2 linked regions of the Homo sapiens genome follow. The protein of the gene in region 1 purifies or fractionates together with the protein of each later gene. This does not show direct contact. Each region holds a gene or a part of one and is shown on either strand. Other genes may lie near its edges.

Evidence for each region. Proteins that work in one complex are often made in the same cells at the same time.
Region 2: the proteins of XPR1 (region 1) and AGRN purify together in Homo sapiens (affinity purification with mass spectrometry; one large-scale study listed by BioGRID and IntAct). This does not show direct contact.

What each region holds. Positions count from the first base shown.
Region 1 is NC_000001.11:180,635,022-180,638,521, forward strand, and holds part of XPR1 (solute carrier family 53 member 1), read left to right. Parts: intron 1-3,500. UniProt on the Homo sapiens protein: Inorganic ion transporter that mediates phosphate ion export across plasma membrane.
Region 2 is NC_000001.11:1,018,681-1,022,919, reverse strand, and holds the start of AGRN (agrin isoform 2 precursor), read right to left. Parts: upstream 2,801-4,239; 5' UTR 2,748-2,800; coding exon 2,547-2,747; intron 720-2,546; coding exon 458-719; intron 1-457. UniProt on the Homo sapiens protein: Isoform 1, isoform 4 and isoform 5: neuron-specific (z+) isoforms that contain C-terminal insertions of 8-19 AA are potent activators of AChR clustering.

The sequences.
Region 1 (3,500 bases):
TTTTATTCCTTGAACTGATAAAATTATTAATGATAATAACCCATCAATATCCTGAAAATTATTATGTTTTTTAATTTAAAAATAAGTTGTGGTGTTCATAGATTCAGTCTTCATAGGCAGAATAATAAAGCATAAAATAACAGACCAACATGGAGAAGCCATATAAAGAAAATCTCTTCAATCCATTTGTAAGTAGTTTGTGCAAAGAATAAACACAAACAAGCCGAGACTATTCCTGTTTCCAGTAATCTGTTTGAGTATAAATTTTGACATGTAAAATAGAACACCGGTAAATCTTTGTAAGAGCTTTTTTAAAATTTAGAATTAGTGACTATATATTTTAAAGCTCTGCAATTGATTAATCAAAATTAACTGAGACTGGTTTCAACCAAATAGACTAATATGACCATGTTAATATTTTGCAGAATATTAGCAGAAGAAGCAAATATATTTGGTGCCTTAGGCTGCTGACTTTCCCTAGGGCCTTGTGTTTCTTTGGTTTCTCAGGACCCAGGAATGATTTTTTTCAGTGTATCCTTTGTTTTGTAATAAAATAACAAGGTTTCTAAATTACAGGATTTTAGAGCTAAAAGGGAATTTAAAGATTATCTACCTTGTTTTTCCAGGCAAGGAAACTAAGGTCCAGAGGGGTTAAGCCACTTGTTTAGGAATATGTGTATATGTCTCTTGAGCATGTGTAAGCATTGAGAGTCCGGTCACACTGTGTGATCCTGATGAAACCATTTCTTCTTTTAGCTAAGAAACATCTGAGTTTCTTTAATGTTAGAGAATTGGACTTGATTTCTAAGCTCACAACCCCCGTATTATTTAAGGACTCATCCAGCTCTAAAATTCTGTGTTTTTAAATGGTTTTATTATGTTTGGTATATGAAGAGGACAGAACTTAACAGGAGTATTAATAGCATCCTTTAAAATTAATAATATCCTTTCAAAAATTTTTGATATTTTGATCTGTGAATAAGATGTTAACCCAGTGAAACTCTCTTATTTAACTTAAAAAGGGATGACGATGAATTAATTTTTTATTGCAGGATTTTGGAAAGGAGAGGTTCTGCATGAACTACACTTCCATTATATTCAGGTATAAGGAGACATTACCATAACATTATTAACGATTTTCATTTATAGAACTCTCCCATGGGAACACTTGTGTTACAGGCTTCAGTTTCCCAAAGGTATTATGTTGATTAGGTAGGTTTAACTTGAGTTGCTGCAACTTGTTTGAAATATCCAGTTTGGCCACCCGATGGGGCACAAACCACACTTTTTCTTTCAGACACTTTTGTAAATCAAAGTATAGTATAGTGTGTTTAAGATAACACTTGTAAATGATTGCGTCAATGAGATGGTTGGCATTTACAAATGTTTCTTAAGTGAGTGAATGAATGTTGTAAAGACAGGAAGCTATAACTATTCTTTATCATCTTTAAGTGTGTCAGCGTGAGTATGCTGGAAAGATTATACTTGTCCGTTTATCCTGAAGGTTGGTTTTGGATCAGCTTTTGGGTGAAGGCCCAGATCATAAGAACCTAAGAATCTTATTTGACCTGGGGTGACCATGGAAACTTAGTCCTAGCTTCAAATTCAGTCCTAATCTGGGAAGCATTTAAGAGAATGATTGAGTTGTGCTGGGTAAGGATTTCAGGTATATTTGAGTTGTAGGCCCCAAAGGAGTGTGCCCAAAACTCCCATGGAGTAAAGAGAAGACAGTATTAGAAAAGTAAGGGGGCTGGACACGGTGGCTCACGCCTGTAATCCCAGCACTTTGGGAGGCCGAGGCAGGCGGATCACTTGAGGTCAAGAGATTGAGACCATTCTGGCCAACATGGTGAAACCCCATCTCTACTAAAAATACAAAAATTAGCTGAGTGTGGTGGTGCATGCCTGTAGTCCCACCTACGCGGGAGACTGAGGCAGGAGAATCGATTGAACCGGGGAGGCGGAGGTTGCAGTGAGCTGAGATTGTGCCACTGCACTCCAGCCTGGCAACAGAGTAAGACTTCATCTCAAAAAAAAAAAAAAAAAAAAAGGAAAAGTAAGGGAAGACAGAACTGTTAATTTTACTTATTTTTATGCATAAGAAAAGGAAGAAATACAATTTTACTAGTATTTAATAAATGGATTGATGCAGTACCCCTGCTAAGGAGGTCATGCACAGGTATACTGAAGAAAACAGAAGGATTGCCAGTGGCTTTTTCACTTGTTTGTTCGCTTTGGCAGATAATCATTAATCCAGTTATGGGTGCATAATTAAATGAATCTATAAATTATTATCTAGTTTTAGCCAAATCAACCGCTAGGAAATAGACATGTCTTAAAAAGACTCCTGTAAAGATTCCATAACAGTAATACCAATAATGCAAGCACAAGTGAACAACAAGAAAATGACAACAGAGCTGAGGTTTCTCCTTCTAGTACTAGCTTTTTGGCAGCCAAATTACAGATAAAAACAATAACACTTTAGTAGACTTGACAAGAAGTTCGCCAAAAATTTAAAAATTATTAAGCTAATTCTTTTTTCTTTTTCCTGAGACGGAGTCTTGCTCTGTCACCCAGGCTGGAGTGCAGTGGCCTGATCTCAGCTCACTACAACCTCCGTCTCCCAGGTTCAAGCCATTCTTGTGCCTCAGCTTCCCAAGTAGCTGGCATTACAGGCGCGCGCAACTACATCCAGCTAATTTTTGTATTTTTAGTAGAGACAGGGCTTCACCATGTTGGCCAGGCTGGTCTCGAACTACTGTTCTCACGTGATCCGCCTGCCTCAGCCTCCCAAAGTGCTGGGATTACAGGCATGAGCCACCACTCCTGGCCTAAGCTAACTCTTTGAAGTAAGGTTTTACATCTACTGTCAGTCACAATGAACTTGACTGTAAGTGTATATATTATGAGTATTCTGCCTTTGTAAGGTCTGTTTTTTCAGTTTATAGCCATTAATTAAGTTTCAAAATCAAATGAATCCTGAACTTTGAACTGGACCTTTGAAACACTGTATCATAAAATGTTAAATGAAGGTTTTATTTATTTAAAAAACTTTTTTGTTTTTTTAATGAAGATTAAAAAAATGAAACTTTTCAGTTATGTTCTCTCAAAGCATTGTTATTGATAATTTCTTAGATCAAAAATATTTTTGTACTGTTCATAAATGAAAGGTAGAAATTATTTCATCCTTGTGTCATCTTTTTAAAACTTCTATTTTAAACAATTTTGTTTTACATTGTACACAGATACAGATGGGTATAATTAATAAATAAATATGCATATATTGGAGATACATAATAAAACTTTTTTTAAATAGGGATTTGACATAATAAAAGTTTGGAAGACTTTGCCCAACTTGTACAGATTAACCACAGCTGGTTTGTGGGTTGCCTGGTATTGAGGTGGCCTTTGGGAATGAGAGAGTGTCAGACTTCACCAGGGTTCTTGCCCAGTGTATTTGCCTTTTCAGGTCTTTCCTTATCTAGTAAATGCTAAAAGAA
Region 2 (4,239 bases), about 180 Mb from region 1:
CTCCACATCCGCAGAAGCCCTCGCCGCACAGCCTCGCCCTCCCGCCCGATCTCCACGGCGAGGAGTGCTCGACACGCGGGCCCGTCTAGACGGAGGTCTGGGCTAACACAGGGGCTTGAACAGCTGGGGACATTCACCTGTCCAGCTTCTCCCTAGAAGGGGCCTCCAGAAGGAAGTATGGAGAGCTGGGAGGAGGGGAGGAGGCAGGAGGCCATCTGTTTGCAGGGCTGGGACTTGCCTTGGGCCCCAGGGCCAAAGATGTCTAATGTGAGGGCTTGGAGATGCAGCTGGGGAGCCAGGGACGGAGAAGCAGAGAATGAGGTTGGACCACAAGACACCGTGTGCTGCAGCCTCCGGCACAGCACGAAAGGACCCCGCACAGCGACCCCTGCAACCTGTCCCCCTTGGCCACTGCCCTGACCCCCACAGGCCCCCACACGAGCCCCCCACCACGCACCTTCCACACAGAACTCCACCTCCTCCAGGTTCCGCAGGGTGATCCGCATGAGGCTGGAGTTGAGCATCAGCTCGTTCTTGTGGGCTGGCCACAGGTATGGGGGTGCAGGGTTCACAAAGAAGATCCTGGTGTCCCCAGTGGACACCTGGTTGTCACAGATGAGGGGGTCTCCAAAGCCGCTGATCACCACCTTGTTGCCGCCGTCCAGCAGGCTCTCCCGGGCCACCAGGTCTTTGCCCTTCAAGTACCGCCAGACCCGAACCTGGGGTGGACATGGCGGTAGGTGTCATTAGTCCTCTCCTGGGGAAGGGGCTAGACTGGGGGCTTTAGGTGTTTAGGGCAAATGTCCACAGTAGACTCAAGCCCTGGGCAGAGATGTGGGGAGACCTCTGAGTCAGCCCGCTGGGCGGAAGCTGGGGGAAGCCCACACTGGCCACCACAGCCCATGCGGGAACGCTCAGAGATGCGTCACCTGTGAACACATCCCCTCCCCCAGGTCTAACCAACTTCAGCCACCCCAGCTCCAATAACGTCCCTATCAGCTAAGGCCGAATTTGGGAAGGGGGCCCACCTGGCTTGGGGTGCCTGCCTTCCACACTTCTCCCCACCTGCCCAGTGCTCAGGGCCCACCTCCCAGCAAGCTTGGGCAGTGGAGGAGGGGGATGGGGCGTTGGGGTAAGGGGCCAGCTTGGCCCTGTGGCTGGGCTGAGACGCCCCTTCCTCGGGCTTCTACAGTCTGTGCACTCAGGGCAGCCTGTGAACCACGAAATCAAGTTTGGGCAGTGCAGGGTGCCCCACCCTCCACCTTCTCAGCTCCTGGGGCCCTGAGGGCAGCTGCTCTGACGGTGGCCTGTGGTAAAGGCTACAGCCGACCTGGCGGCCCTCACGGGGACAGGGACCCACGCACTCACGCACTCCCCTGAGAACAAAGCCGGGAGAAGCAGCCCCTTCCTCAGATCTGGGGGGCTGGGGCTGCCGGATGGGGGGAGAGACAATGGTTGGCCTGTCCACTGCGCAGCCCCTGCTGGGAGCCTCAGGACTGCGGCATCCGCAGGGACCCCCTCCAGTTGCGCAGGCAGAGCCTCTTCCACGCCCCCCAACAGTAGGCTCCAGGAGGCAGATGACCCAGGCAGGGGGAGGGCCTGGTGGCTTTCATCGCCTTCCCCCACCCCAGCCACACCCAGGAGCAGCGGGGAGGAAGTCGGGAAAATCCTGCAGGGGCCTGGCAAAGTGCCCTGGCCGCTGTGGAGGAGACTGGGCCGGCGGGGGAGCCCAGCTGTAGCCCGCACCGGCCAGTCTGAAAGAAGCTGCCACCTTCTCCACCTCCGTGGAGGGAAATGAGTGGATTTCTGGTCCCAGGAGATGGTTTTGGGGGTACACGGGCGCCGGCTCTGGGTCCCCCGAGCCCCTACTAGGAGAAGATGGTGGGGGTCCCAGCGTACCTACCCCGGGGGCTCCCAGAAGCACCTGAAGGAGAAACCAGGGAAACTTCCCCTCCCCGGGGTGGGGAGCCCCGGTTCCCGCAGGAGCGCGATGGGGCACCGGCCCTGCCCCCAAGCACACGAGGCCCGGTGACGGCCCCGCCCACCTCTCTGCTCCTGCACGCCCCCCCCCCGCACCACTGCGGCACCCCCCACCTGGCTCCCGGGGTTGGGAGCTCAGGCTGTGCGCCCCTTTTTCTCTCCTGACCAACCCCTCTCGCCCCGGGAAAGGCCTCTGGGGAGGGGAACAAGCGGATCCCAGGCCCAGCCCCCGCTCCCCGCCCGGGCAAAGGCCCCCCCTCCCCAGGCCCCTCTCCTTCTCGGCCGGTAGGGAGGGCGCGCGGCAGCCGCAGTCCGTGGGCGAGGTGCACTTGTCTCCGCGAGGAGGGAGGCGGCGGCGGGCGGAGGACGGCGGCGGCGCAGCAACTTTCCCCGGCGCCCGCGAGTTTCCCGGGACCCGGCGACCCCCCCTCCCGGGGCTTGGCGGTCGCCAAGGGAGCCGGAGCGGGGGCTGCGGAGCGACCGGGGCTGGTTCCCACGGCCTGGGGCGGGGGTCCCGGCGGGGCGGCAGGCGTCGCGAGGGGAGGCCGGGGTCCGGGTGGGCGCACCTTGCAGGAGTACGTGTGCTGCACCGGGTCCACGTTGAGGATCTCCTCCACCGTCCCGGTGAGCACCACGTTCGCCTCCTCCTCGCGCCGCTCCAGCGCGCGCTCCGGGCATGTCCCGCCGGCTCCGGGCAGGACGCACGCGGCCACCACAAGGAGCGGCAGCAGCGGCCGCAGCGGGCCCGGGTGGGACCGGCCGGCCATGGCGCAGGCGAGAGGCGGCGGAGGAGCGCGCGGGCCGCGCCGGGGACGGGACTGGACAGGACGGGACGCAGCTCCGGAGGCGGCGGAGCGCGGGCGGGCGGGCGGGGGGGGGCGGGGCCAGGGCGGCGCCCCTCCCCCTCTCTCCTCCCCGCCCCCCTACCCCCTCCCCGCGCCCTCCTCCTCCCCCTCCTCCTTCCTTCCCCCTCCCGCCCCCTCCCTCCTCCCTCCCCCGGCCCGCCCGGAGGCCGGCGACCCGCGCCGCCGCGAACAAAGCCCCGGGACGCAGCGCCCGGCGCGGCCGTGGGGCGGGAAAGGGGCGGCCCGGGAGGGGGCGGGGAGAGGAGAGTGGGGGGCGGGTCTGGATCCCGCAGGCGCCCCTCCCCCGCCGCGGCCCCCCGGAAGTGCGGCTGCACCCGAGTTAATGCCTAATCTGGAGGAGACGTGACGGGACTGCCGAGGGGCTCCGGGCGGCGCGGAGCCGGGCGGCAGGGCTCGAAGGCCGCCGGGAGGGGCCCCAGACCCGGCCCCGATCCCGCTCCGCAGGCCGCGCCCCTCCCCCGCGGGGCCGGACACCGAGGCTCGGCCGGGCCGGACCCCCCGGGAGCTGCGGCGCGGAGGCGGGTCCCGGTGCCGGGGCGGGCGCTGATTGGCCAGCACGGGGCGCGGCCCCGCCCCTCCCGGCCCCGCCCCCCCAGGCCCCGCCGCGGGGAGGTTCGCGCCCCCTTCCGTCCCGCGGCTGCAAGCGCGGGTCCCGCCACGCCCCTTCCCAGCTCTGGGCCGGGCGCCTCTGCAGCTTGGCCTGGCTGGGTGCAGGGGGAAACTGAGGGCTGGAGGACCCAAGTGGGAGCCTGGCCTAGCTGAAGATTGAAAGGAGGGAGCGGAGGCCCCCTTTGTCCCTTCAGAACTGTGTCTAGGCTGGGCGTGGTGACTCACGCCTGTCATCCCAGCACTCTGGGAGGCGGAGGCAGCAAGATCTCTTGACACCGGGTGTTCGAGACTAGCCTGGGCAAAATAGCAAGACCCCATCTCTCAAAAAAATTAAAAATTAGCTGGATGGGCCGGGCGCAGTGGCTCACGCCTGTAATCCCAGCACTTTGGGAGGCTGAGGCAGGTGGATCACGGGAGGTCAGGAGTTCGAGACCAGCCTGGCCAACATGGTGAAACCCCGTCTCTACTAAAAATACAAAAATTGGCCGGTGTGGTGGCAGGCGCCTGTAGTCCTAGCTACTTGGGAGGCTGAGGCAGGAGAATCGCTTGAACCCAGGAGGCGGAGGTTGCAGTGAGCTGAGATGGTGCTGAGAGGTGACAGCGTGCTGGCAGTCCTCACAGCCCTCTCTCGGTCTTCACGCCTCCTCTGCCTGGGCTCCCACTTTGGTGGCACTTGAGGAGCCCTTCAGCCCACCGCTGCACTGTGGGAGCCCCTTTCTGGGCTGGCCAAGGCGGGAGCCGGCTCCCTCAGCTTGCAGGGAGGTGTGGAGGGAGAGGCATGAGC